Linked DNA regions of Homo sapiens. Changing the gene in region 6 together with the main gene of any one other region gives a genetic interaction. Each region holds a gene or a part of one and is shown on either strand. Other genes may lie near its edges. The genes, in order: PDCL, LONP1, MAP2K3, NOL6, DNM1L, ATG7 and ACTR2.

Region 1 (4,231 bases), on a different chromosome or scaffold from region 6:
GTTTTGTTTTGTTTTTTTGTTTTTTAAGACAAGTTCTCACCTTGTTGCTCAGGCTGGAGTGCCTTGGTGCCATAATGGCTCACTGCAGCCTCAACTTCCTGAGCTCAAATGATCCTTCTGCCTCAGCTTCCATGAGGTTCCTCTCTTAAAAAGCTGGGACCACGTGTAGCTGGGACCACAGGCGCTTGCCACCGTGCCCAGCTAATTTATTTCTTTATTTTTTGTAGAGATGGGGTCTCACTTTGTTGCCCAGGCTGGCCTCACACTGCTGGCCTCAAGCGATCATCTGCCTCAGCGTCCCATAGGCATGAACCAATGCACTGGGCCCATATTTATTTTTAAGAGGGAACCTAAACTTCTTTTCATAATTTTAAGAGAGATTTTTATATCCTTTGCTCATTTAAAAAATTAGGTGTTTTTTTTCTTCTTGGGGAGCTATAAAGGAAATTAATCTGTGATATGAGTGGTAAATATTTCTTTCAGTTTGTTGTTGTCTTTTGACTTTATATTCTTTTGTTCTTTTCCTGGATGAAAAATTTTATTTTTATGTACTTAAAAGTATTTTATAGTTTCTTAATTTTGCATTTTACTTAAAAGGCGTTTCTTCACCCTACTTTATAAAGGGCCTCACTTTGCTGTATAAAAAGGTTCTCCTGGCTGAGCACAGTGGCTCACGCCTGTAATCCTAGCACTTTGGGAGGTTGAGGCGGGTGGACTGCCTGAGCTCAGGAGTTCGAGACCAGCCTGGGCAACACAGTGAAATCCCGTCTCTACTAAAATACAAAAAGTTAGCCAGGTGTGGGGGCATGCGGCTGTAGGCCCAACTACTCGGGAGGCTGAGGAAGGAGAATTGCTTGAACCCCGGAGGCAGAGGTTGCAGTGAGCCAAGATCATGCCACTGTACTCCAGCCTGGGCAACAGAGTGAGACTCTGTCTCCAAAAAAAAAAAAAGATTCTCCTATACTTTTCATTAGTATTTTTGTGATTTCATTTTTTACACTTAAATATTGATTCATGTGGAATTCACTTTGATGCAGGGTGCAGTAGGGCTCCAGTTTAATTTTTTTTTAGATTGCTACTCAGTTGTTTCAGTACTGCTTAGTGAATAAGCCATCTTTATTATCTTGAGATGTCACTTTTATTATGTACTGAATTTCTCTGTTTATGTTGGGTCTTTAGCTGTACTATGTGGTCTCTTCCATTGATTTGTCTTTTACTGGGCTGTGTCATACTGTTTTTAATTATTGTAGTGTTATATTTTAGTATTTGGTGAGGCTAGACCCTCTTCAATTAACTTTTGCTTTATTTTTTCCAAAGGAAATTTAGGAGCCGGACACATATGTGTGTTCATGTATTTTCATTGGGAATGCATTAAATATATAGATTAATTTAGGGATCATTGGCACTTTTGTGATGTTGAGTATGTCTGTTCAGGAACATGGTATTGCTTTTCCATTTATTCAAGTCTTTCAAGTATTTTTTGGGAGCATTTTAAAGTTGTCTTCATATAGATTTGTATATTTTTTTTCTGTGAAACCAATAGACTCCAAAGCTTTAGTGGCTTATGGCAACAAAGGTTTATTTCTCATTCACGTTACATGCAGCCTGTAGGTCAATGGCAGCCCTGCTTATGTTTCGTATGTTCTTTCATCTAGGAGCTAGGCTGAAAGAATAACAGCCTCAGTTTGGCTGTGTCCCTCTATTTAGGACACACCGTTTTCATGGCGAAGCATAGAGAGCAAGAGAGGAGCTGTTGGAAACATGGAATGGCTCATACACGGCATACTTTTTGTTTTGCTCAGACATGGCATACTTCATATTTGCTCACAATCCCATTGGCCAGCAAGTCGCATAGTCAAGCCCAGCCTCAATGGGCTGGGGATATATGTACTCATCCCACAGGAGGTACCACAAGTCACATAGCAAGGTGCAAGGACATATAAGTCCTTCGGCAGCACAGGGCTTGACGGGTTAAGGGTAGCTGGAATAACAGAACAGGTTGTATTACAATCTTGTTATAAAAAAATTGTTATAAAAAATTCAGAGGCCAGGTGCGGTGGCTCATGCCCATCATCCCATAGCACTTTGGGAGGCCGAGGCGGGCGGATCACCTGAGGTCAGGAGTTGGAGACCATCCTGGCCAACATGGTGAAACCCTGTCTCTACTAAAAATACAAATATTAGCTGGGCATGGTGGCGCATGCCTGTAGTCCCAGCTGCTCGGGAAGCTGAGGCAGGGGGATTGCTTGAACCTGGGAGGTGGAGGTTGCAGTGAGCCGAGATCGCGCCATTGCACCCCAGCCTGGGCCACAGAGCAAGACTCAATCTCAAAAAAAAAAAAAAAAATTCAGATAATATAGAAGTACAGAAAGAAAAAAGTAAAAGATCTCTCTCACCAGTTGCTTAGATCCTACTACCTGGAGACAACCACTGTTAACAGCTTACATATCCTGCAAGCTCTTATTCTATAAACACACAAGTGTATATACAAACATGTATGCATATCTATGTACATAAATTATGTATATACATACAGGTCTTTTTTAATAGAAACTAGAGGATTGTACCGTGATATTCTAAATTTTGCTTTTGTAATAACCTCATATATTTGGAATATCTTTAATGGCAGGAAACACAGAGCTGCTTTACTCTAAGAGTTGCTTTATTTTCCTTTGAGTAGGTAGATGATAATTTTTTAAACTCATCTCCTAATGTTGGGCATTAGCTTGGCCCTTGTTGCAGGGTACATCATTGTGTATAGGCCACTCTGCCCTGTGGCAGAGTACACAGAGTCCCTATGATAATTGTGCAGTAGATGGAGCAAGCTTCAGGCAGATGTGAACTCCTACCTACAGATGTCAGCTGGTCCATAATTCCCTGCCCATTCTCCTTGGTCACATCCGTGTTCACCCTACTCAGGCCCAAAAGGTGTGATCAATGACTGGCGCCGCTTCAAGCAGTTGGAGACAGAGCAGAGGGAGGAGCAGTGCCGGGAGATGGAAAGGCTGATCAAGAAGCTGTCAATGACTTGCAGGTCCCATCTGGATGAAGAGGAGGAGCAACAGAAACAGAAAGACCTCCAGGAGAAGATCAGTGGGAAGGTAATTAGCAGTACTCAGGCTTTTCTTAGAGTCTGCTGTGGCTGCTAGAGCTGGGTGAGTGATTCAAGAGGTGGAGGATGCTTGATTTGACCTCCAAGAAGTTGTGCAGTGCAGGAGAAATCATAGAGCCCTGTCAAAACTCAAACCCACCCAGCTTTGGATCTCAGTTCTGCTACTAGTGACTGTGGGAGAGTCTCTTCCCTTCTGAATCTGGTGTTTCAATGGTTAAATGATGTATCCTCCCCGTGCAGGGCTGTGTTGTTAATATGCCCATCACAGTGTCTGGCCCATTGAAAGTGCTCAGTAAATTTTAGTTTCCCTTCTTTTATTGAGGTTTTATCTTGGGCCAGAAATAACCCTCTTAGGGTGGTGGTATTATCCCCTTCTTACAGATAATGGAAGCAATGCTTAGAGGGCATTAGAGGCTTGTTCAGGGCAATGCAACTGGTAAATTCTAGTAGGCGCTAGGGTTCTAACCCAAATACTCCTGTTTCTTCCATGATGTTGCTATTTCATCTGAAGCCTATTCATGAGAATTTATTCTAAGGAGGCATTATAATAAGCAAACAGATACTCTGGAAGATATTTGGAAGTAGGCACCTGATGGCCTTTTTTTTTTTTTTTTTAATAGAGACAGGGTCTATGTTGCCCAGGCTGGTCTCGGAACTCCTGAGGTCAAGGGACCCTCCCACCATAGCCTCCCAAAGTGCTAGGATTACAGGCGTGAGCCGTGGTGCCCGGCCCGTGATGGCCTCTTATCCTATCAGTATTAAAAGGGATTCACTGTTTCTCTGGATGCCCTCTGAGTGTGGACGAATGTCTGTGAGTGCCTGAGATCATTTAGTTATGGCCCAAAGCTAAAATACCACACAGGATCAGGGAGCAGATAAGAGGATTAAGCTGGGAATCATTCACCTTGACCAGGAGGCTGATTTTAGGACATTACACTTAGCCAAAGACTTCAATAGGTCAGAAGAAGCCACTCTGGTAGACTGAGTTGAAGTGGAGGGCTGCAAGATGGGAGGAAAATTGGCAATAAGTAAAATAGTGAACTCAGAATGTTGCTGGTTATGATAAAGTAACAACGTGTTCTGATCTAGTGTGATCTCCCACTCCCTGTTCCCTAATCT
Region 2 (4,231 bases), on a different chromosome or scaffold from region 6:
TGGAGCTTGCGGTGAGCCGAGATCACGCCACTGCACTCCAGCCTGGGCGACAGAGGCTCCATCTCAAAAAAAAAAAAAAAAAAAAAAAAAAAGAACAAGTTCGCTGCCCCTAAGGGGTCTTGCCAGTTCTAATCACATTTGTAAGTTTGGTCGCTGTCTTCCCCCTGTTGCAAGATTCTCACAGGGAATGCCCCAATGCTGAGCTGCCCAGGACAGTGTAGCCGCTGGTGGCTGTCTGAATTTTTTTTTTTTTTTTTTGAGACAGAGTTTTGCTCTTGTTGCCCAGGCTGGAATGCAATAGTGCAATCTCGGCTCACCGCAACCTCTGCCTCCCAGGTTCAAGCAATTCTCCCGCCTCAGTAATCCCGAGTAGCTGGGATTACAGGCATAAGCCACCACACCTGGCTAATTTTTTTTTGTATTTTTAGTAGACACGGGGTTTCTCCATGTTGGTCAGGCTGGTCTCAAACTCCTGACCTCAGGTGATCCGCCCACCTCGGCCTCCCAAAGTGCTGGGATTACAGGCGTGAGCCCACCGTGCCCGGCCTGAATTTTTTTATTTTAATTTTTAGATACAGGGTCTCACTCTGTTGCCCAGGCTGGAGTGCAGTGATGCGATCACAGCTCACTGCAGCCTCAATCTCCTGGGCTCAAGCGATCCTCCCACAGGTTAGACCACTGGTGTGTGCGACCATGCCCAGGGATTTTATTTTTTTTGTGGAGACAGGGGTCTCAATATTGCCCAGGCTGGTTTTGAACTCCAGGGCTCAAGTGATCCTCCTTCCTTGGCCTCCAAAAGTGTTGGGATGACAGGCATGAGACACTGTACCCAGCCAATAAAATGTTCCATTCTGTTCCTTGGCCACAGCAGCTCTACTTCAAGTGCTCAATACTCACAGGTGGCCGGGCACAGTGGCTCACGACTATAATCCCAGCATTTTGGGAGGCTGAGGTGGGCGGATCACCCGAGGTCAGGAGTTTGAGACTAGCCCGGCCAACATGGTAAAACCTCGTCTCTACTAAAAATACAAAAATTAGCCGTGTGTGGTGGCACGTGCCTGCAATCCCAGTTACTTGGGAGGCTGAGGCATGAGAATCACTTGAACCTGGGAGGTGGAAATTGCAGTGAGCTGAGATCGTTCCATTGCACTCCAGCCTGGGTTGACAGAGCCAGACTCTGTCTCAAAAAAAGAAAGAAAAAAAAAAACCTCGCAGGGGTAGTGGGGCAGGATAGAAGTGCTGACCTCAAGAACCCAGGTGGGCCTGTGGACAGGACTTTCCACCCCTGCCAGCGCCCACAGCAGACATCACCAGTTGCTCACAGCACTTCCCCCTAGGCCCTGCAGCAGCCTGGGGAAGAGGCTGATGACACCAGGCACACAGGTAAGGAGCTGACACGCTTCAGGCCTTTGGTTAGCTTCGCTGACTGTCCCTACAGCGGGAGGGCAGGTGGCACCGCCAAGAGCCTGCCCACCTCGGAAGCTGACTCCTTGTGCCACCAGGCAGGCAGGACGGCCTAGGTTGGGGGATCAGGGTGGCCAACAGGCTGTTTCCTGTCCTGCAACCACTGGTACCAACCTCCCAGGCTTGGTGGGAAGAAGCCAGGGCTGGAAGGTGTCTTGGTAACCGCTGGAGGCTTTGGCACAGGGGACACGGGCTGGGGCTGGACCTGGGTTCCAACCCTGTCTCCTTCCTGAGCAGCTACAGGCTCCAGCGAATTTCCTGTGCCTCTCCCATCCCAGAGTCTTCCGAAGACCTCTGGGAGGAAAAGCACCCTCTATGTTCCATTAGAATTGAGTTCCAGACAGGCCAGACCCTTCCTAAGGGGCTCAGGGTGGGAGATGACTCTTCGGAGAGGCCGCAGGAACGGCTCAAGGGAGCCCGTGGGGGAGGCAGCTGTGGCCGCCCTGCGTGACGCACGGACTCACTTTCACCTCCTCCGTGACCTGGAAGTCCTCGTGGACAACGTTCTCTACCTCCACCATGAGCACCTCAGCCGGGAGCTCAGGGGTGGGCTCCATCGCCAGCTCCGCCGGGTGCCTGGCGCTCAGCTCGTCCTCCGCCTCCTTCTTGCCCCGCTTTGACTTCCTGCGGGGCTTGTGCTTGTTCTCCGCCTCCGGCTCCTCGGGCTCCACCTCCAGCTGTCTGCTGATATGGACTCTGACACGGGAGCAAGGCAGGTGTGAATCAGCCGCTGAGGCTGGGAGCTGGACCCGGCTGAGGCCTCCCTGGTGGCACAGGTGGTCCAAGGGTCCCGCTGAGCCCAGACCTCTGGAGCCACAGGGTGGCTACAGGGTCCTCAAGCTGGAGACGTGAGCCGCTTTCTCGGGGCCTCCCAACCAGTGTCCCCTCCACCCCTTAGACTCCAGCCAGATTCAGGCATTCCCTGCATCCCACGCCAATGCATCACTGTCCCCATCCTAAGTATCGTGGATAAGCTGCAGTGACAAGCCCCAGGGCCTCCTGTCGAAAACGGTGTCAGCCTGGCCGGGCACAGGCTGGTCTCCAAGACTCTGTGCCCTGGACTCAGCTCATAGCAGCTCCTTCCTGTTGTTCAGGTCTCGATTTCAAGGACACCATCGCAAAGACTGTCCCCAAGCACTTCACAAAAGCTACCCACCTCCACCTCTCACGCTGTCTGCGTCTCCCCTCAGAGCACCTGGCACCACCTGAACTCAGGGTCTCGCTCTGTTGCCCAGGCTGGAGTGCAGTGGTGTGATCATAGCTCACTGCAGCCTTTACCTCCTGGGCTCAAGCAATCCTCCTGCCTCAGCCTCCCAAGTAGCTGGGACTACAGGAACACGCCGTCACATCTAACTTTTTATTATTTTTTATAGAAACAGGGTCTTGCTGTGTTGCCCAGGCTGGTCTCAAACTCCTGGGCTTAAGCGATCCTCCCACCTCAGCCTCTTGCGTAGCTGTGACCACAGGCATGAGCCACCACATCCAGCTAATTTTTCTACATTTTTTGCAGAGATGGGATCTCGCTACGTTGCCCAGGCTGGACTCAAACTCCGGGCTCAAGCGATCCAATTGCCTTGACATCCCAAAGTGCTGGAATTCCAGGCAGGAGTCACCATGCCTGGCCCTGCAGCTCACCCCTTTCTGAGACAGGAGGGGTCCAGAGGTGACATGTCTCACTCTCACCCCCAGCTCTGGCCTCAGTGCTAGTGAGAAAGCCGCTGGGCTGACGGACAGGGCAGAGGCTGATGCTGGGGCATAAGGCATCCTGGCTGGTCTCCCGCGTGGTACTCTGCCCCCACCTCCCACTGTCCCCCGCCAGCCACCCACCTTCTGTGTCCCATGACGATCATGCGCAGCTTGTCCCCAAGGTCCTGCATCTCATGGATCTGGGCAAACGTCCCCGTGTGGTAGATTTCATCCAGGCTCTCGACCACATCCGACTCATTGCTGTGGGAGAAGAGCACAGAGGAATGTTGGAACATGGCTTTCATGCTAGGCAGGATGTCTCTGGCTGAGATGGAGGAGGGAGAGAAAAGAAACGCCCCTACCAAATGCTACTGAAAACCAAGAGCGGCCTCCTTGGCTCCCGCAGGAGCTCCAGAGCCTAGGGGAGCTTCTGCCAGGCCAGGGCTGCCCCAGTGGTCACAGGACCGGGTGGGTGGCTCCTCGCTAAGTCAGCCACAAAGACATGGTCCAGGTGGGACTTTGATGAGTCTCTTCTATGCTATCACAGAGCCTGCTTCGAATGCATGCATGGAACTCTTTTTTTCTTGAGATGGAGTTTCGCTCTTGTTGCCCAGGCTGGAGAGCAATGGTGTAATCTCAGCTCACTGCAACCTCCACTTACTAGGTTCAACCGATTCTCCTTCCTCAGCCTCCTGAGTAGCTGGGATTACAGGTACCTGCCACCACGCCTGGCTAATGTTTTGTATTTTTAGTAAAGACGAGGTTTCATCATGTCAGCCAGACTGCTTTGGAACTCCTGACCTCAGGTGATCCACATGCCTCAGCCTCCCAAAGTGCTGGGATTACAGGTGTGCGACCCCACGCCCGGCCCATGGAACTCATTTCTACATGGAGCCACATCTCCGAGCAGCTAGCTCGACTTTCAGGTAGCCTCATGGAGCATTTCATCACTAAGAGTCCCTGAAGTTAATTTCCCCCGTATCTTAACAATGCATGAAGTTTAGTACTACAAGCTGAGTTCTCAGCCCAGGCTGAAAAGGTAGCCTGCGTGGCTTCTGGCCTTTATTCTGGAGGTCTTCCC
Region 3 (4,231 bases), on a different chromosome or scaffold from region 6:
ATCCAGCTGAGCCCAGCCACAGTGGTGGAAACATGAGAAATAAGAAACCGCTGTTGGTTTGGGTCACTAGGTTCTAGGGTGGTTTGCTATGCAATATTTGATAACTGAAATATACACTTAGCACACACTTGTCCAAGTTCCACCAGCCATATCAGAAGGCCACTAGCCATGGTGGCCCCAACAATCATGATGGATGGACAACTGGAAGGGAGACAGGGAGATGGGGAAGGGACATAGGGTGTGTGTATGTGTGAGGTAGTCATGAGCAGGGTCTCTAATATCCAACCAGTTCTGTGCAGTCTAAATACAGCAAGAACTTGTCCTTTGCATCAAACTTAGGACTTGGAAAACTGTTATTGCAGATACAGCACCTGCCTTCAGCCTGAATATTCCTCTCCACCTCAAAAAAAAAAAATTTTAATTGAAAAATTACATGTCACCAATTAAAGAAAATTGAAGGTATGGCCCAGTCCCACCTCTCTGACAAAATTATTTCGACTTTGAGTCTTTCCCAGTCACTGTCTACAGATACACTATTTATAAAGTTACAGCCACAGGCCAGGCGCAGTGGCTCAAGGCTGGGCGTGGTGGTTCACGCCTGTAATCCCAACACTTTGGGAGGCTGAGGCAGGTGGATCACCTGAGGTCAGGAGTTTGAGACCAGCCTGGCCAACATGGCAAAACCCCGTCTCTACTAAAAATACAAAAATTAGCCGGGCATGGTGGCAAATGCCTGTAATCCTAGCTACTTGAGAGGCTGAGGCAAGAGAATTGCTTGAACCTGGGAGGCGGAGGTTGCAGTGAACTGAGATTGTGCCATTGCATTCTAGCCTGGTCGACAGAGTGAGACTCCCTCAAAAAAAAAAAAGGCCAGGCACAGTGGCTCACCCCTGTAATCCTAGCACTTTGGGAGGCAGAGGCAGGCAGATCACCTGAGGTCAGGAGTTTGAGACCAGCCTGGCCAACATGGTGAAACCCCGTCTTTTTTAAAAATACAAAAATTTGCCAGGTGTGGTGGCTCACGCCTATAATCCCAGCTACTGGGGAGGCTGAGACAGGAGAATTGCCTGAACGCGAGAGGCAGAGGTTGCAGTGAGCTGAGATCATGCCATTGCACTCCAGGCTAGGCAACAGAGTGCAACTCCGTCTCAAAAAAAAAAAAAAAAAAAAAAAAAAAAGATAGCCGGGCATGGTGGCACGAGCCTGTAATCCCAGTTACTCAGGAGGCTGAGACAGGAGAATCACTTGAACCTAGGAGGCGGAGGTTGCAGTAAGCCGAGATCGTCCCATTGCACTCCAGCCTGGGCAACAGAGTGAGACTCCATCTCAAAAAAATAAAAATTAAAAATAAATAAAGTTATAACCACATGATGATGATAACAATGGTAGCAGCAACACCAGTAAAACCCACAACACCTGCGTCAACTCTCTACCCACCAGACACTTCTCTTCGCTCGCTCCCAACCCTCCCTCCCTCTCCTCTGACCCAGCCACCCAGGCACACAGCAGGCACAGCCCCACCTCAGGGCCTTTGCACTTGCACCCCCTGGTCTACCCTGCCCTCAGGTCAGCAGGGTGCCCTCCTTGCAGAGGCCTCCGCATCTGCAACAGTGGCCTTCCACCTGTCCCCAGAGCCACCCCTACCTGCTCCAGTCTTCTCCACCCCCGTGGCATAAAAAGGAATTTATTTGGTCTTTGTTCCTGGCATGGAGCTCCTAAAACCCTTGGAATTTCCTGAGTGACAGGAGTGGCTTTGTTATCCACAAGGAGCCTGAGTTTATGCTAATGAGGTGACTCAGGGTAAGGCCCCTAGACAGCCTCAGATGGGGCTGCTCCCCAGAAAACCCAGCTGATTATAGAGGGTGGGAACTCTCAGCATCACCCGCCAACTGATGCTGAGAGGAGGGGGGCCTGGAGACTGTGCTCTATAAAAACTTTCAGTGGGTGCAGTAGCTTGTGCCTATAATCCCAGCACTTTGGGAGGCCGAGGTAGGCAGATTGCTTGAGCCCAGGATTTCAAGACCAGCCTGGGCAACATAGTGAGACCCCTTTTCTACAAAACATTAAAAAAGTAGCTGGGCATAGGGGCACACACCTGTAGTTCCAGCTACTCAGGAGACTGAGGTAGGGGGATGGCTTGAGCCTGGGAGTTCAAGGCTGCAGTGAGCTGCGATGATACCACTGCACTCCAGCCTGAGCAACAGAGTGAGACCCTCTCTCACAAAAAACCTCTCCATGTGAGGCTGGGCGTGGTGGCTCATGCCTGTAATCACAGCACTTTGCGAGTCTGAGGCGGGCAGATCACTTGAGGTCAGGAGTTCAAGACCAGCCTCGCCAACATGGCAAAACCCCATCTCCACTAAAAATACAAAAATCAGCTGGGCATGGTGGTGCCTGTAATCCCAGCTACTCGGGAGGCTGAGGCACAAGAATCGCTTGAACCCAGGAGGCAGAGGTTACGGTGAGCTAAGATTGTGCCACTGCATTCCAGCCTGGGTGACAAAGTGAGACTCTGTGTCAAAAACAACAAAATTCCATGAGCTTGAGAAGCCTGTAGGTTCGCAAGCACAGGGAGGTACCAGGAGGGTGCCAGGCCCTGAGAGGGCACGGCAGCTCTGCACCCCACACTCACACCCCTCCCCCGTGAGTCTCTTCCATCTGGTTGGCCCTGAGTTATATCCTTTCTGATAAACCAGTAAACACAAATAAAGTGTTTCCCTGAGTTTTGTGAGCCATTCTAGGAAATTATCAAACCTTACGAGAGGGTCATGGGGACCCCCAATTTGTAGCTGGTCAGTCCAGTAGTATGGGAGACCCGCTACTTCCAACTGGTGTGTGATGTTGGGGGCAGTCTGGTGGGACAGAGCCCTTAACCTGTGGGGTCTGTGCGAACTCCAGGTAGCATCAGAACCGAACGGAACTGCAGGGCACTGGGTGGGTGTCTGGAGAATCCGAGAATGGGTTGCGGTGTTGGAAAACACCCCGCCAGCGCTTCTCACCACATCTTACTGATTCTATCTGACGGCCTCATCCCCAACACCAAACAGTCAAAGGGACTAGGGACAAGCAGGAATGTCCTGGGCCAGGCTTCCCTGGGCAGGGAAGGAGCTGACGCCCAGGACACTCCATTGGTCCCAAGCCACTCAACTGGCCAAGGCCACCAGCCTGAGCCCGACCTGCTGATGGCATCGTCCTTCCACGCGTCTCCTGCACAGCTTCCTAGCCCTGGCTGGGGGACACATCCTGGTGGTCTTCCCATCCCTCCAATCCACTGTCCACAGGGGAGCCAGAGCGGGCTCACCCACACCTTGACCTGAGCCCCAACACGGAAGGCATGGGGTTCTGCCAGGCAACTCCAGAAGCAACTGCTCTGGGCCCATCCCTACACCTGGACTTCGGACTTCTGCCACATCTGCCCTCACCCTACCCAAGCCAGGGATGCCTTTGGCTTCCACAGGCCCAGGATTGAGAGCCCGCCCACCCTTTCTACCACCCCACCGCAATGTACCAGGACGCCACCGACAACAAACCTTCTGCTATGAAATATTTTTGAAAAGATCTTTACCATCTTGCTTTTGCATGATTTACATACCAGGAACTTACGTAATTTGGGATTGGCTGTGATTTCTCAACAAGCACCAAGAACTCCAGAGAAAGCCCTGTGGCCACCATATCACAAAGCACCCAGGACTTCACGATGAGTGACCCTGACCCTAGGAGGTTCCCTTAAATAGATGGTAATTTCTGATGGCACATTTTCTTCTCAGATTTTGAAGCCAATACTTCTTTCCAGAACCTAAACTATTTGATGAGTCCCCCAAAAGCTCAGGGCCCCAGGCACGGCTCCACCCACCCCACCTGACCACCAAGGGCAGGCCCTGGCCCCCCACAGTACCATGGTGATGCCCAGGCTCCAGACGTCGGACTTGACATTGTAGCCCTTCTGGTTCAGCTCTGGGTTGATCCTCTCAGGCTGCAGGAGGGAAGAGTGAGGCGTGAACACCCGCCCCAGGTAAGCCCCCATGGCTAGGCCTTGCCTCCCAATCCCCAAACTGAGCGCTCAGCTTAGCCCACCTGCCCATGTGACGGGGGAGGAAACTGAGGCTAGGAGGGCCTGGGTCATGCTTAGAAGGCCCAACCCTTGCATCGGTCTGACCCTACCCGGGAGCAGGCCCCTAAGGCCCTCCTGACAATGAGGGCGGGGCGGGACCTGCACAGCCCACCAGTGTCC
Region 4 (3,803 bases), on a different chromosome or scaffold from region 6:
AAAACTCTGTGTGGACACAGGATGGACCCTCAGCCCAGGTTCAACCCCATACCTGCCCCCTAATGTGTGGTTTTCTTCCCAAGGAAAAAGCAGGCCCAGCCTGACCTGGGAGAGACCCACTTCAGTTCCAGTCTGATGTGTCTGTACCCCGCAGATCCTGCAGCAGCTTGTGGTCCTGGCAGCTGAAGCCCTGCCCATGTTAGAGAAGCAGCTCATGGATCCCCGGGGACCTGGGGACATCAGGGTAAGCTTCTGACCAGCAGTGACTCCAGGGCCTCTGGGGATTCTGTCTTTGGAAGTTCAGCGTTCAGGGATCTCACAGGAGACCCGGTCCCCTTGTTTGGTGAGACTGAACAGAGGAGGTGTTGAAGCTGCTGTGGTGCCTGGGGTGGCAGAGCCTGGGGAACCTGGGTTCCATCTGGGTCTCCTGTTTCTAGCCTGTGCTCCTTCTGCCGGGCTATGCAACAGCTGTTTGCTCTGTGGGTCTTGGTGCTTCAGTCTTCAAATGGGCAGGTGGGCCCATAGAGGGTGGTCAGATGGAAGGAGGAAACCAAGGTGGGCGTGTGGAGAGGTTTGTGGTCCAGTTCCTCAGTCAAGGGGGTCCTGCTGACCCCTCCTTCTCCCCTTCCTTAGACAGTGTTCCGGCCGCCCTTGGACATTTACGACGTGCTGATTCGCCTGTCTCCTCGCCATATCCCGCGGCACCGCCAGGCTGTGGACTCGCCAGCTGCCTCCTTCTGCCGGGGCCTGCTCAGCCAGCCGGGGCCCTCATCCCTGATGCCCGTGCTGGGCTATGATCCTCCTCAGCTCTATCTGACGCAGCTCAGGGTTGGTCCTAAACAGCTGAATGACCTGGGGAGGGGACTTCCAGGTGAAGCTGAGGCTGTGGAGGAGCTCTTAAATGCCTGCCTATAATCTTCTCTGTTCTGTCCCTTTCTAGGAGGCCTTTGGGGATCTGGCCCTTTTCTTCTATGACCAGCATGGTGGAGAGGTGATTGGTGTCCTCTGGAAGCCCACCAGCTTCCAGCCGCAGCCCTTCAAGGTGTGCTGGCTGGTGACAGCTGTGTTCCTGAGTGTGTGCACGTGGTTCTGTGTGGGCATGCATGTCTGTGTGTAGTCTGTCCTATGGGCAAACCCGTGTCAGGTGCGGAGTGTATGGGCTTGTGTTTCTATCCCCACCACCCCCACTCTGTACCCAGCTTGGTGTCTCTGGGTGTGCCGCTGTGACACTCAACCCACATCTCTTCTCTGATTTCCCCAGGCCTCCAGCACAAAGGGGCGCATGGTGATGTCTCGAGGTGGGGAGCTAGTAATGGTGCCCAATGTTGAAGCAATCCTGGAGGACTTTGCTGTGCTGGGTGAAGGCCTGGTGCAGACTGTGGAGGCCCGAAGTGAGAGGTGGACTGTGTGATCCCAGCTCTGGAGCAAGCTGTAGACGGACAGCAGGACATTGGACCTCTAGAGCAAGATGTCAGTAGGATGACCTCCACCCTCCTTGGACATGAATCCTCCATGGAGGGCCTGCTGGCTGAACATGCTGAATCATCTCCAACAAAACCCAGCCCCAACTTTCTCTCTGATGCTCCAGCATTGGGGCAGGGGCATGGTGGCCCATGTAGTCTCCTGGGCCTCACCATCCCAGAAGAGGAGTGGGAGCCAGCTCAGAGAAGGAACTGAACCCAGGAGATCCATCCACCTATTAGCCCTGGGCCTGGACCTCCCTGCGATTTCCCACTCCTTTCTTAGTCTTCTTCCAGAAACAGAGAAGGGGATGTGTGCCTGGGAGAGGCTCTGTCTCCTTCCTGCTGCCAGGACCTGTGCCTAGACTTAGCATGCCCTTCACTGCAGTGTCAGGCCTTTAGATGGGACCCAGCGAAAATGTGGCCCTTCTGAGTCACATCACCGACACTGAGCAGTGGAAAGGGGCTATATGTGTATGAATAGACCACATTGAAGGAGCACAATGCCCTCCTGTGTTGATGCCACTTCCCAGGGTGGAGACAGTGGAAAAGAACCGAGGACAGGAAAGGATTGGGTAGGTGAAGGGGTCAGGGGACTGGTAGTCACCCAATCTTGGAGAGGTGCAAAAAGCACTGGGGGCTACCCGTTAGCTGCATCTGCCCTGGCTGTTTGCCCGTTCATGTCACAAACTGCCACTACTATGTACCTGCAGTGGGGTTGCAGAGATGGGGGAGACTCAAGTCTTACTCCCCAGGAGCTCCCAGGGCCCAAGGAGGAGAATGCTGCCTCCTTTCAGTCTGGTCTACACCCACTTTCTGGTAGCCTCTCTGCTTCCTGTAATTCTGGCTGTTTTTCCAGACTCAGCTCAAATAGTGCCCCTCCTTAAGCCCATCCCTCGCCCCCAGCCTGAGGTGATCTTTCCCTCCTCTGAACTATTAGAGCAGTTACTGTCTGTTCAGTTCGTTTGGCAGGCACACACAGTGGCATAAATTCTATTGTTTTGAACTCTGATTTAAAATTAAATTGCAGCTGGGCGTGGTGGCTTATGCTTGTAATCCCAACACTTAGGGAGTCAGGAGAATCACTTGAGCTCAGGAGTTCTAGACCAATCTGGGCAACAGAGAGACCCCATCTCTTTTAAATAAAAAGTTAAATTGCTTAATTTCCCCCGTATTCCTGGCCTGTCTGCCCCTTTCACATAATTTTAACCTGGTTTCTTGTATGTAAACTCCTTGAGGGCAAGAACATGTTTGAACATAGACTTCTTCGTGTCCTTCCTAGCACCTATTACAGTGCTTTGCTCAGGGGCCATCCAGCACAGGCAGATGGGGGGCAGAGAAGCCCACTGGAAGATTGCAGAGTAAAGGGAATCCATTTGTGAAATCTGCCTGCAAGAAGTGGGTGGTGACGGTGAAAGAGAAAGCCTAAGAGATTATAGAGTTGACGTTTATTGAGGGCTTAATAGGTGCCAGGCGGGGTTAGGTGGTGGTATCCGTATCTTATGTGCGGAAACTTGTCGTACAGTCATAACGAGCCGTATGGAGTAGGTACTTTCATTTACCTTCATTTTCTGAGTGAGAGAACAGGCTCAGCGCAGGGGCCCGTTGTGTGAGGAACTTTGATGCCTGGCTAGCAAGCTCCATCCTCAAGATGAGAAGCTGCATGTGGGAACTCTGGCCTCCAGTTCTGTCTCAACTGTTGGTCTTTGTGAATCACTGCTTGCCTCTACTGTCACTGCCATGGAGCAGCTCAGCCCAGGGTTGAAATTAGAATAGGGAGGGAATAAATTGGCTGGCTGTGTGAGCTGGAGTCCACATCTCTCCCTCTGCTATTCATTCTTGAGCTTCAAGCATCAACGTGCCAGGCTTTATTTTCCAGGAGTGAAATGTAATCCCATCCCTTGTGGAGCCCCGTGGTCCATGGTCACCCTTGGCTCTTCCTCTTGCCTCCCTTGGTCCCTTGGACTATTTGTCCACAGTCACTCCATGGGCTCCTGGGAGGGCCAGGGTTGCTGGAAGCCTAGCAGGAATCCTTATGTGTGAGCAAGTGTACACAGGATAATGGTTAAGCATCCTCATGGATGTGCCTGCCTTGGCGGGTCTCTGCCTTTAACTTTGCAAGTGTGGCAGATCACCTGTTTCATCTCCAGGTCAGTTGTCTGTAGCTTCAGGCCCTTCACAAACCCAGCTCTTGATTATCCCCATGGGGGAGGGGGTGGAATCTGCCCCCAGGCAGGACTGTAGCAGGTGGCTCTAAGAGGTGCAGTTACCAGTCCCAATGGGAAATGAGCCCTGGCCCTGCCACCTCATGTGGCCCTGTGCAAATCACTTACCTTTGCTGGG
Region 5 (4,231 bases), on a different chromosome or scaffold from region 6:
AACGCGCCACTGCACTCCAGCCTGGGCAACAGAGTGAGACTGTGTCTCAAAAAAAAAAACAAAAGCAACAATTCTTGATACTTTACCTTCTTTTCATCATCTTTATTTCAAAACTCTTCAATAAGCATTTATTCATAATAGCCAAGAAGTGAGAAAAATCCAAACATCAGCTGATGAATGCTTAAACACAGTATATCTACATAATCTAGTATTATTCACACAAAAGATATGTCACTTAATGACACGGATATGCTTTGAGAAATGCATTATTAGGTGATTTCATTACATGCACAGCACAGAGTGTACTTACACAAACGTAGATGGTATAGCCTATGACACGCCTAAGCTATATGGGATAGCCTATTGCTCCAGGCTGCAAACATGTACAGCATGTTACTGTACTGAATAGGGAACTGTAACACAATAGTATTTGTGTATCTAAACATAGGAAATGTACAGCAAAAACATGGTATCATAATCTAACGGGAACACATTCAAATACGTGGTCTGTTGACTAAAATGTTATGTGGTGCGTGACTATACTGATTCATACTACAGTATGGATGAGGCTTAAAAACATTAAGTGAGCCGGGTGCAGTGGCTCACGCCTATAATCCCAGCACTTTGGGAGGCCAAGACAGGTAGATCACCTGACGTCAGGAGTTCGAGACCAGCCTGGCCAACATGGTGAAACCCGTCTCTACTAAAAATACAAAAATTAGCTGGGCATGGTGGTGCACACCTGTTATCCCAGCTACTCAGGAGGCTGAGGCAGGAGAATCGCTTGAACCCAGAAGGCAGAGGTTGAAGTGGGCCAAGACTGCGCCACTGCACCCCAGCCTGGGCGACAAAGCGAGACTCCATCTCAAAAACACCTTCTGCAGAGGATGGGGGCAAGGAAGGAAACAAATGGAATTTTTTTCTTCAGGCCCACAGTGTAAAACACTAGGAACTGTTATTTCTACTACAAGCTACGGGTTTAAAAAGTCTACAAGCAAAAAAGATAAATGGTTCTACAGACAAAAATCATTTATTTCAATATGAAGTATTAGACTGTTTATTACTCTGTGCAGTAAAATTCATCTTAGCTGCTGACAGATTACCAAAAACTGGATGCAGAATATTTTCTAATAGATCACTTCACACAACTAAATGTATATTCTCCCTATTACTGCATGAAATGACATACCAGGCAACATGAAGGAGAAGATGCAGTAGGGACTAGACACATGAAAAAACATTCTGAACGAGAAAAAATACACATATTTCCTAGTAAAAGACATTCGTTTTGATACTTTGGAAAACCAAGTTAAATTAAAAAGGCAAGTCAGTGTTACTAGCCAAAATAATTAATGAAACTACTAAATTAAAATTTAGGAAAAAGATTTTCTTAAATGACTCAAAATGTGGCAGCCAGATAGAACAAAAGAATCTCTCATTTTTAATAGCTTTTTCTAGCTGATACATGAGGTCCTAGTCATTCTATGTTAACAAAATGGGTCTTGCTACAAGTTACCCAAGGACTATCAGAAAATCCACTTGATGATTTAGAATAAAAACCTAAAATTGTAAAAATACATGTATTTTTCAAAACAGATCACAGAATCATCCAGAAGTATTAAAGTCCGTCATTTATATTAAGTAATACTAACCTGTCTTGAATATTCTTTCTGACAATGAGAAAATATGATTTAATGAGTCGTTCAATAACCTCACAATCTCGCTGTTCCCGAGCAGATAGTTTTCGTGCAACAGGAACTGGCTAAATAGGGATGAGGGGGAAAAAATATTACTTTTGTGACACTAAAATGGCAGCTTTAACATCTGAAAGTTATGTAAGTTTTTGAGACTTTTAGTTCTTTCTGTCTAATCGTTTTCCTACTAACTTGGTCACCTACCTTATTACCTAAACCAAATTGTCATGGCTTACCACATCTAGCAGGTTCACGGCATGACCTTTTTGTGGACTGGCTGGCATAATTGGAATGGGTTTTGATTTTTCTTCTGCTAATAACTCTTCAGCTTTTGAAGTTTTCAGCATTCCTCTCCAGTTGCCTGTGGTTGGTTCTTGAACACCATCTCCAACCCCACCACCTCCAGATGCAACCTGAAAAAACATGTTCCAAAACATACCAACCACATCATATCTGACCTTAACTAAAACAAAGTTCATTTTATTTGACAGTAGTCAATATACATCCAGTACCCATCTGAAGTTTATTCAGACAGATAATGAGGTCAGAAGGAGACACTAGGTAGCATGTATAACTGGAACCCTGACCTATCTAAATAATAAAGAAGTTCTGCTCTAAGTTGTTTGCAAGGCATCAACCAACTTATGTTCTATTTAATTCCTTTTTTCTTTATCATTCGCTAACTTTTCAAAATCGTTCCTCTTCTCCCACCCTTCAAACACTAAATTGTAGGAAAAGTATATGCTGCCCTTAAAAACAAAACTACTCGTTAAAAGCACAAAGAACTGCTATTCAGTTTAATTTCTTAAGTAATCATTAACACTGTTAAACTCTAAAAGTTCCATGAACTTACGTCTCTGAACTTAAGAGTTTATATGTTTCTCAATTTACATTTCTAATAGTCAACAAAAATGCCATAAGGTATAAGTAAGAACTCTTTAACAAAAAGCAAGACTACATTTGCTATTCTTAGGCTGACAGTCACTGTGAGTTGTTTCAAATGCGGAATGTGACAAACAACAGAAGTCCCCTCAACCTCTGTACTCTTAAGGATTTGCTGAAAGAAATCTAGTGCTACCATTAATCACAAGTGCTTTTGTACCTTGTTTTCTAGAAAATGTATTAGTCTTGACTTCTAAAAGTCAAAAATGACTTTATAATGGAAAAACAATTCATCAACATTTAAGAGGGTTTTTTTTAGGTATTCTTTAAGATCTTACAATCTAAAAATGGATTATATAAGTTTAATAGAGGATTATGGCAGTTAGAAAAATGGTAGTTTGAGGTATCATTCTGAATCAAAATATTTGCTAAAATCTGTCTTTAGTATGTCAGTTAAGGTGAACTACATTTAAATATAAGTAGTATATTTATGTTACACATTAACTTAAAAATGAGTAATTAGATTTTTAAATGTTTGTTAACTATACATGAATGACATACCAAATGAAATCTTAAGGAGAGAGAGCACATTCAGTGTGACGTCATGAATGAAATAAAACTTGTGCAGTGATTTAGATGGTTTGATTAATATCTGAGCACAGTGGGCTGAGAGAAGATAAGACATTTATAAACCTTTATTTGAAGTTCAGAACTTTAAATCTGGATAATTAAGGAAAGGAGCTAAATGGCAGAAAATCTTGAAATAGCGATGAGTCTGAATAATTTATACATTATTTAATTTTCCTCTAAAATGGTTATCAAGAATTGAAAACAGTCTCAAACTCTCACAGTCCCCATTTGTTTTTTTAATTTGCTTAAGCTTCTGAAGCATATGTGAAGCTATATATAGGGTAACAAGTGCAAACTAACTGGAAGCATAAGAAAGAAGCATTAGATCTATTAGTACTGAACAGATCTCAAGATCTTTAAAGAGGAAAGGAAATGTCCAAAAATACAATTCCATCTCTGAAATCTAGGAAATCTCTGAATTTCCTACCAAAATACTAAATTTAAAACTATTCTTGAAGGTAACAAAACAGTGAGAAAGCCTATTATTGTTACTAATTAAAACAACGTTTAATGCCATCTTCCACAGGTTAGATAAAAGGAACATTAAGAACATAACACAGACAAGAGATAGATACCACTACACAAACAGGTTCTTTAATGGTGGTATAGACAGTGTTTCAGTGAGAACCAAAGGTACCAACATTTCCATTCTGAAGCAAGAGACTCACATTTTTAGTTTCTCTTCTGCTGTCCTGAATTAACTGTTAAAAGATATGTTAAAACATGCAATTTAACAAGCAAAATTTAAATACCAATGGGTTGAAATTCAAAAAGTGCAGGATAATTTCCTCTTTAAATTACTTTTTCTGTGTGCATCTTCTATATTGCAAGCAAAAGCATGTCAACAATATAAACTATGCATTGCATTGTTATATAATTTTAAAATATATATTAGACTAAAGTGATCTGACCTTAGCACAGTATCCCATATTAATATTCTTCTATTCAGTGTATTGTTTCCAGAAGATTATGTTGTACCAGAGAACAAGGCATGCAGGCTTAGATTAAGAATCAGAACAGACCTT
Region 6 (4,231 bases):
AGAAGGAAACCAGTGCAGGGGCATGACTGAAAATTTAATTAAGGCCCTTCTCAATATAAAGTCTGTAAAGGAGATGAGGGCACATCTCAAGGTCAGAAGAAGGCGGGAGACTTGGGAAAGATTCAAATGAGATACGACAGCATAAATAGCAGAGGTAGGCTCTGGAGATCAGCTTCCTTATGATAGATGGTTATTACCGCGTCTTTTGGGTCCTACGTGAAATGTCTCTGTAGAAAAGATTAACACATGCATGTCAAAAAAAAATGCCACCTTGTGTGTGGGGGACAGAGGGGGGCACATTTTCATAGTGTTTTGTGGTTTTCAAGGCCGTGTCAGATGTAATCCTGGACACAAAGTAAAGCACCTGCTTTTCTTGATTTGGAAACTGAGACTCTGGGAGGCTAAGTGAACTCTACAAGTTCTATTTTTTTTTTTTTTTTTTTTGAGATGGAGTCTCACTCTGTCGCCCAGGCCACAGTGCAATGGCGCGATCTTAGCTCACTGCAACCCTCCACCTCCCGGGTTCAAGCGATTCTCCTGCCTCAGCCTCCTGAGTAGCTGGGATTACAGGTGCACACTATCACGCTCAGCTAATTTTTGTATTTTTAGTAGAGACGGGGTTTCACCATGTTGGTCAGGCTGGTCTCAAACTCCTCTCCTCGTGATCCACCCGCCTCGGCCTCCCAAAGTGCTGGAATTACAGGCATGAGTCACCGCGCCCGGCCCACAAGTTCTATTATGGGTGGTTTTGTGCAAGGGGGCTGGGGTACCAACAGGAAGCAAAATCTCCCAACATGCAGGCCACGGATCTTTCAACTCACAAGACCTTTGAAAGAACATTTGTCAGACTGCCAAGTTTAGGTATGGATTGTGGCTCATCCACTAAGTCTCTGTGACCATGAAGAAGTCGTTTCCCCTCTTCTGATTCTCATCCTAAACTGAATATGACAGTGCCGCCCTAGCTGGCAGAAGGTGGGTGGCGAGGAGGAAGAGAGAGACAAGCATGAGCTGAGTCACTCTGCTCTCTGCACTCGTCTGAGTCTGTCCTTGCAAATCACCAGATAGGACTGGTGGGCACCATCACGATTTCACTGATGGGAACAGCAGTCACATTACAGGAGAGGATACATACATGGAATCTAAAAAAAAATGATTTCCAAATAAGACTGGAAAACCTCTTCAATCTCCCAAAAATATAGTAATGAAAATGACTGAAGAGGCAACATGAATTCTAAAAGATCATCCCACTGCCTTTTTCTTTTTACTCCCTAAGGGATGGAACTTCCTCATGATGCTTTGGATTCTTTTTCTGAAAAGACACCCCACTTTTTGGTGACCCTGCATGCTTCTAATGTTTTTCTCATGCCTGCCTATAAAGGTTTTCTATTTGGGTTCAGAGTCAATAATAATAACAAGCAACAGTAAAGAAACAGCAGGCATTGTTTGTTGAGGGCCTATGATATACACTGTTGCTGAGCCCTTTCTAGCAACCATCCATAATCCATACAACTACCAGGTGATGTCAGCATTACCTTCTCTATGTTACAGATAAGAAAACTAAGCCTCAGAGAAGTTTAGTGACTTGGCCAAAGAAGGCCATCTTTATAACGGCAGGGCTGGGATTTAAACCATTGTATGACTGATTCCAAAGCCTGTTTTTTCTGTTCCTATTGCATTATGAGGCCTCTAGTCAGTTTACAAAACGCATCAAAGACTCTGGGCAATGCTTCTCGTTCGTGATTTCCTCCCATCACTATCCCGCAGAATGGAATACCTTCCAGGTGGTCAGAAAGCTCTCCCATTGAAATCCCAGCTGCAGGGTAAGTAGGGTGGATATGAAGTGGGCTGGGCAGATGGAATGGCAAAGAGACCCCACATGCTTTCCCCCTGTACCAAAAGAATTGTGATTTCACTTCCACATCACTAACCTGGTGAGGCACAAGCCCAAGAGAGGTTGGAGGCTCATTCATCCGATCGTCACTGCTGCTGGCAATGGCATAGCCCCTGAGGACAGGAAACAATCAGAGCTGCTCATTTAATCCAAGTTTAACACATGGGAGGATGATCTAGCAGAAATCTACATAAGATTCATAAGGATAACTAAAATGCCCCTTGCTGGGCAGTGTAAGTTAGCAAAAAACTAATTTCCCTGGGACAAAGGGCAAGAAGAGTAATTTAAACATGCATGGTTTGGAGTCAGAAAGACCTGAGCTTGTGACCATAGGCAAGTTGCTTAACTTTTCTGTGCTTCAGATCCATCATCTATAAAGTAGGAATGAGGGAGCTCTGATTAATAAATGAGGAATCTACTACATCAACTGCCGAGTGCAATGTTCGGCATATCAGAGGCCAATAAACATTAACTCACTTACTATGAAATAGTCTTGTCAAACATCACAGCACATTTCTGTACTGAAAATTTGAAGTGGAAAATTTTCTAACCTTAACTTCTTGAGCTGATATAAATGCTAATGAAATGGAAGAAATAAAAGTGAAGAATGAATTGGGCAGAACTAATACACTACTCTCTGAACAATGGAGTGATACTTGTGGCACCAAAAAGATGTGACACAGGACCTGGTGTTTAAACTATGACCAGGGCAAATGTGGCAGACAGAGGCTCAGTGTCAAGGAAGCATAAAGTCAGCTCTCAAAGATTTTATCCCAAATACTTCCTGTCAGAGAGTGGCAATAAACTTAAATGACAGATAGCTAAGGTGGATGACAAAGAGGAAGACAAAAAAGCCCCGCTTTTCATTTATCTCAGAGTACCCATACTAGTTACATATACAACCACAATTTTCAACTGCTGAGGAAAGCTTTGAGTCACACAAGAAATAGAATATTCATGTTAATTTGCATATTGACTTTCTGAGAACTGGAAAAATAAATCTTTCAAAAATTCGATTTTCTGCTGCCTGTATTGCAAACAGCATAACAAAGTCATTAAACATAGTCTGGAGCCACACTGGTTGAGCTAAACCCTGGCTTTTCCATTTACTATGTAAATTTGGCCACTTACTTATCCTCACTATGCCTTGATTTCCCCATCAAAACTGCGACTAATAATAATAGTTCTTTCCTAATATGTTTGCTATGAAGATTAAAGGAGGCCGGGTGCAATGGCTCACGCCTGTAATCCCAACACTTTGGGAGGATAAGGTGGGTGAATCACTTCTGATCACTGAGGTCAGAGGTTCAAGACTAGCCTGACCAACATGGCAAAACCCCATCTCTACTAAAAATACAAAAATCAGCCGGGCATGGTGGCGTATGCCTGTAATTCCAGCTACTTGGGAGGCTGAGGCAGGAGAATCACTTGAACCTAGAAGGCAGAGGTTGCAGTGAGCCAAAATCGTGCCATTACACTCCAGCCTGGGCAACAAGAGCGAAATTCCGTCTCGTTAAAAAAAAAAAAAAAGATTGAAGGAGGCAAAATTTCTAAGGTGCTTAGAACAGTGCCTAGCACAAAGTAAGCCCTATATAAGCGTTGGAAAAATAAAATAAACCATAGTGACTTTGTCCGGAAAGATGCAGAAATGTGGCCACAAAGGAAACATGCCAAGTTATCTCAGCCCAAAGAACCAGACCTGCTTTTTCTAGTCTTGTTTTTTTGAGGGTGAAATAGTGAAATTCTCTGTAAAGTCAGACTGAGAAAAGGCCATGGGAGACACTGATGAACAACTGCCTACAAAAGCTTTGTTTAAATACTCATCTCCTACTAGCAAACTCACCCTTCTGGATGCTGCAAAACAGATACCATCAATTCCACGGCCAGGGCTCCTGCAATCACGGCCAGTCCTGGACGACTCACAGTGCACTGCTGGTCCAAGGTCCGGTCTCTGGTTGACTGCAAAGAAACAATCATTGGTGTGTGCAGAACGTTCTACTCCATTCAACTCTAGCTGTCTCAAGTATGAAATCCTCTGTGACAAAGCTTTAAATTATAACCAGATGCTCATTGTTGGCAAAGAACATCCAGCCTCAAGTACATCATTTCTTGAGATTATCAAGATAAACAAAATATACAATTTAGGTAACTAAATGAGGTGATATGCTAAAAAGGATCAGTAGCCTAAACAGATTGGGGGATATTAACCAAAAATGAGGGCTTAGCTGCCTCATATAATGGAACTGCATCATGTGTTCCTTTAAGTGACTCAATTCAGTTCTACTGTGCTTGGTAGTTAAGTGACAGAGACACAGAAAGGAACAATGATTTGAAAAGTGC
Region 7 (4,231 bases), on a different chromosome or scaffold from region 6:
CATCTGTTGTCCAGGCTAGAGGGCAGTGGTGTGATCATGGCTCACTGCAGCCTCAATCTCCCAGATTCAAGGGATTCTCCCACCTCAGCCTCCCAAGTAGCTGGCACTACAGATGCACACTACTATGGCTGGCTAATTTTATTTTTTGTAGAGACGGGGGTCTTGCTTTGTTACTCAGACTGGTCTTGAACTCCTGGGCTCAAATGATCCTCCCATCTTGGCCTCCCAAATTGCTGGGATTATGGGGAAGAGCCACCGCGCCTGGCCAATTACAATGATTGTTTAGATTCCAGCTTTGGTCCCAGCTACCTAGGAGGCTGAGGTGGGAGGATCACCTAACCCTGGGAGATTGAGACTGAAGTGAGCCGAGATCATGCCACTGCACTGCAGCCTGAGCAACAGAGTGAGGAAACCCTGTCTCAAAACAGAAAGAAAAAAAAAAGGTTACCAAAACTTATACCCTTAAAAAAACCACCTCCACCTTCAGGTGGGTTCACATGAAATCACCCAAAATATCTGGAAAAACTTCACACAGCAGATCTTATTAGCAAAACCTCCTGCCTTAAGCACTTGAAGCCTGATAGTGTGGCTTCTCTCCATTCTCTGGCTGCTGGCCAGCATGGGGTCAAGTTTTCTAATCACCTTAATGAACTGTTAAAACTGCAGGCATCCCATTTCTTTGCACCAAATCTTATCCTGTTCTGTATTTGTCCACCCATGTCCCTCCTCACTTATTCATCAGCTTATTACTTTATACTTGTGTATATGTGTGTGTGTGCATATATATATCAAATATATATATGGATTTTGTTTTGTTTTTGAGACAGGGTCTCGCTCCTTCACCCAGGCTGGAGTGCAGTGGTGCAATCCTAGCTCTCTGCCTCAAAACTTGAGCCTTGAACTCCTGGGCTCAAGCAATCTTCCCACCTCAACCTCTCAACTAGCTAGGACTACAGGCACGTGCCACTACGCCTGGCAAATTTTTGTATTTTTTTTGTAGAGACAGGGTCTCATTATATTGCCCAGGCTGGCCATGAACTCCTGGCCTCAAGTGATCCTCGTATCTCAGCCTCCCAAAGTGCTGGGATTACCGGTGTGAGCCACTACACCCAGCCTATTTGTATATATTTTTGTAGCCTACCTCAAATTCTTTGAGAAAAGAGAGAAGGAAGAAATAAAACATGTTTTACATTCCTAGTTTGCTTATCTTTTGCCCTGTGCCAGCCACTTTCTTCCAAAATAGTCAGGTAGATGGAAAATCAGACAACTAGAGAAACTGTCAAGAAGACTTCAGGAAGGAATCTCCAGAGCAAATCTGGAGATGATTAAGTTACAAAATGGGTTTACTCCTAGAAGAAAACCTAGCCAATACCATTCAGGACATAGGCATGGGCAAAGACTTCATGACTAAAACACCAAAAGCAATTGCAACAAAAGCCAAAATTGACAAATGGGTTCTAATTAAACTAAAGAGCTTCTTGCATAGCAAAAGAAACTATCATCAGAGTGAACAGGCAACCTACAGAATGGGAAAAAATTTTTGCAATCTATCCATCTGACAAAGCCTTAATAACCAGAATCTACAAGGAACTTAAACAAATTTACCAGAAAAAGACAAATAACCCCATGAAAAAGTGGGCAAAGGATACGAACAGACACTTTTCAAAAGAAGACATTTATGTGGCCAATAAACATAAGAAAAAAAGCTCATCATCGCTGGTCATTAGAGAAATACAAATCAAAACCACAAAATCTCATGCCAGTTAGAATGGCGATCCTTAAAAAGTCAGGAAACAACAGATGCTGGAGAGGATATGGAGAAATAGGAACGCTTTTACACTGTTGGTGGGAGTGTAAATTAGTTCAACCATTGTGGAAGACAATGTGGTGATTCCTCAAGGATCTAGAACTAGAAATACCATTTGACCCAGCGATCCCATTACTGGGTATATACCCAAAGGATTATAAATCATGCTACTATAAAGACACATGCACACATATGTTTACTGCAGCACTATTCACAATAGCAAAGACTTGGAACCAACCCAAATGCCCATCAACGTTAGACTGGATAAAGAAAATGTGGCACATATACACCATGGAATACTATGCAGCCATAAAAAAATGAATGAGTTCATGTCCTTTACAGGGGCATGGGTGAAGCTGGAAACCATCATTCTCAGCAAATTAACACAGGAACAGAAAACCAAACACCAAATGTTCTCATTCATAAGTGGGAGCTGACAATGAGAACATATGGGCACAGGGAGGGGAACAACACACATGGGGCCTGTTGGGTGGGGGGCGGCAAGGGGAGGGAGGTATAGCATTAGGAGAAATATCTAATGCAGATGACAGGTTGATGGGTGCAGCAAACCACCATGGCACATGTGTACCTATGTAACAAACCTGCATTTTCTGCACATGTATCCCAGAACTTAAAGTATAATAAAAAATAAATTTAAAAAAATTTTAAATGGGGGTTTACTGAATATTTGGATCACTATCTTAACTTTTTTTTTTTTTTTTTTTTTACCGACATGGAGTCTTGCTCTGTCACCCAGGCTGGAGTGCAGTGGCACGATCTCAGCTCACTGCAACCTCTGCCTCCTGGGTTGAAGCAATTCTCCTGCCTCAGCCTCCTGAATAGCTGGGACTACAGGTGCCCACCACCTTGCCCAGCTAATTTTTTGTATTTTCAGTAAAGACGGGTTTCACCATGTTGGCCAGGCTGTTCTCCAACTCCTGACTTCAGGTGATCCGCCTGCCTCGGCCTCCCAAAGTGCTGGGATTACAGGCGTGAGCCACCGCGCCCGGCCAACAACAAATTTTTTATAATTACTTTAAAAATGACTATTTTGCATATATTTGTGAATATGTAGAGCTAGTATGCATCATATGGTTTTAAAATACTTGCCTTCATTGCCTATTACTGTTTCATTTTAGTAATAACTAGATCAAAGATGAGACCTGGAAGTACTTTATACTCAGACAAATTTAATAGGCTTAAGATGGTAATTCATTAAAAATTCAAGTAGGATCAACTCCTCTGGTGTTATAAACTATAACCAGGTACTAAATCTCATTAGTTACAATTTCAAGTTAACATTTAACACCTCATTAAAGAATATTAAGTCAGGAAAGGCTGCCACCTACTGAATTAGTAAAGCAATGCTCTAGAATGACCATTTCCAAAGTATGTTTCTTAGATCACTAATCCCATGAAATTCTGAAAAGTCCTAGAGCATAAGTCTGAAAAACACGCATACTATATTAATTGTGCCCATATTAGCATACCAAAGGCTCTGAGTTCTACAGTGAAGTGAAATCAACTCTTTCTCAAACTCATCTGACAATGTAATCCTTTTTAATTTTTGTGAAATGCTTATTAGCATCTCAGGGAAATAAAGTTCTGTAAAACATACATTGAGAAATGCTATGCCAAATACTAGAATCTCAAAATAACATCTCGCATCTAATTATATCCTAGTATAGAGAGTAATTTATGATTCTTGCCTTAATTTGCATTATATGGTGCCCTAAAATAATTAAATAGAAACTTAATGTAGAAAGAGACATTAAAAGTCACACATATACATATTACAACAACCCAAGACAAAAATACTGATTCTAAGAAAACCTCCTTAAGCTGACACCAATAATCATGGCTGTCCACTTTAAAACACATATATATTATACACTGGAAACACTTACTGTATAAGATTCAACTAATACTGTGGTTTCTAAGGCCAGTTTCTGCTCTTGCTCAATATTATATCCCACGTAACACAGTTTTTCTTTAATCATGCGAACCGTTTCAAAATCAGCAGAGTGGTTGAAGGCGTATCCTCGCAACAGAAGTAGCTGGTACAAAACAATAGCAATAAGTTCATAATACATCTGAATGAGTTCTACTCTGCAAAAGCTAGTAATGCTCATTAAATATGTCACATCAATAACAAACAGAATGGGCAGTGGATCCTCAGCTCCTACTATTTCAGAAGCAGGATTTTATCCGCCATAAAAGGATTTATATTTCAGTTTCAGAGAGGGTAAAAGAATTAACAATTCATAAGTAAGTCAGTAAAATGACTAGAAAAGTCAGTTTTTGAAAAGCACTGCATGAGTACTAATGTTTTGATAGTTTTGATAAACAATCAAAAGTATATTAATGAATAAATATTATTTTAGTACTGGACTCCTGTAGCCTGCAGTTTGCTCACACAATTAA

The links.
Region 1: of ATG7 (region 6) and PDCL, changing one enhances a phenotype caused by changing the other (phenotypic enhancement), as found in Homo sapiens cells (one large-scale study listed by BioGRID).
Region 2: of ATG7 (region 6) and LONP1, changing one suppresses a phenotype caused by changing the other (phenotypic suppression), as found in Homo sapiens cells (one large-scale study listed by BioGRID).
Region 3: of ATG7 (region 6) and MAP2K3, changing one enhances a phenotype caused by changing the other (phenotypic enhancement), as found in Homo sapiens cells (one large-scale study listed by BioGRID).
Region 4: of ATG7 (region 6) and NOL6, changing one suppresses a phenotype caused by changing the other (phenotypic suppression), as found in Homo sapiens cells (one large-scale study listed by BioGRID).
Region 5: of ATG7 (region 6) and DNM1L, changing one suppresses a phenotype caused by changing the other (phenotypic suppression), as found in Homo sapiens cells (one large-scale study listed by BioGRID).
Region 7: of ATG7 (region 6) and ACTR2, changing one enhances a phenotype caused by changing the other (phenotypic enhancement), as found in Homo sapiens cells (one large-scale study listed by BioGRID).

The regions. Positions count from the first base shown.
Region 1 is NC_000009.12:122,821,886-122,826,116, reverse strand, and holds part of PDCL (phosducin-like protein), read left to right. Parts: intron 1-2,919; coding exon 2,920-3,101; intron 3,102-4,231. UniProt on the Homo sapiens protein: Acts as a positive regulator of hedgehog signaling and regulates ciliary function.
Region 2 is NC_000019.10:5,709,843-5,714,073, forward strand, and holds part of LONP1 (lon protease homolog, mitochondrial isoform 1 precursor), read right to left. Parts: intron 3,412-4,231; coding exon 3,292-3,411; intron 2,161-3,291; coding exon 1,929-2,160; intron 1-1,928. UniProt on the Homo sapiens protein: ATP-dependent serine protease that mediates the selective degradation of misfolded, unassembled or oxidatively damaged polypeptides as well as certain short-lived regulatory proteins in the mitochondrial matrix.
Region 3 is NC_000017.11:21,304,793-21,309,023, reverse strand, and holds part of MAP2K3 (dual specificity mitogen-activated protein kinase kinase 3), read right to left. Parts: intron 3,974-4,231; coding exon 3,896-3,973; intron 1-3,895. UniProt on the Homo sapiens protein: Dual specificity kinase. Is activated by cytokines and environmental stress in vivo. Catalyzes the concomitant phosphorylation of a threonine and a tyrosine residue in the MAP kinase p38.
Region 4 is NC_000009.12:33,460,272-33,464,074, reverse strand, and holds the end of NOL6 (nucleolar protein 6), read left to right. Parts: coding exon 1-38; intron 39-154; coding exon 155-244; intron 245-633; coding exon 634-828; intron 829-940; coding exon 941-1,042; intron 1,043-1,261; coding exon 1,262-1,411; 3' UTR 1,412-2,722; downstream 2,723-3,803. UniProt on the Homo sapiens protein: Part of the small subunit (SSU) processome, first precursor of the small eukaryotic ribosomal subunit.
Region 5 is NC_000012.12:32,737,940-32,742,170, reverse strand, and holds part of DNM1L (dynamin-1-like protein), read right to left. Parts: coding exon 4,229-4,231; intron 3,908-4,228; coding exon 3,875-3,907; intron 2,108-3,874; coding exon 1,931-2,107; intron 1,763-1,930; coding exon 1,653-1,762; intron 1-1,652. UniProt on the Homo sapiens protein: Functions in mitochondrial and peroxisomal division.
Region 6 is NC_000003.12:11,362,432-11,366,662, reverse strand, and holds part of ATG7 (ubiquitin-like modifier-activating enzyme ATG7), read right to left. Parts: intron 3,851-4,231; coding exon 3,735-3,850; intron 2,005-3,734; coding exon 1,929-2,004; intron 1-1,928. UniProt on the Homo sapiens protein: E1-like activating enzyme involved in the 2 ubiquitin-like systems required for cytoplasm to vacuole transport (Cvt) and autophagy.
Region 7 is NC_000002.12:65,255,178-65,259,408, reverse strand, and holds part of ACTR2 (actin-related protein 2), read right to left. Parts: intron 3,865-4,231; coding exon 3,715-3,864; intron 1-3,714. UniProt on the Homo sapiens protein: ATP-binding component of the Arp2/3 complex, a multiprotein complex that mediates actin polymerization upon stimulation by nucleation-promoting factor (NPF).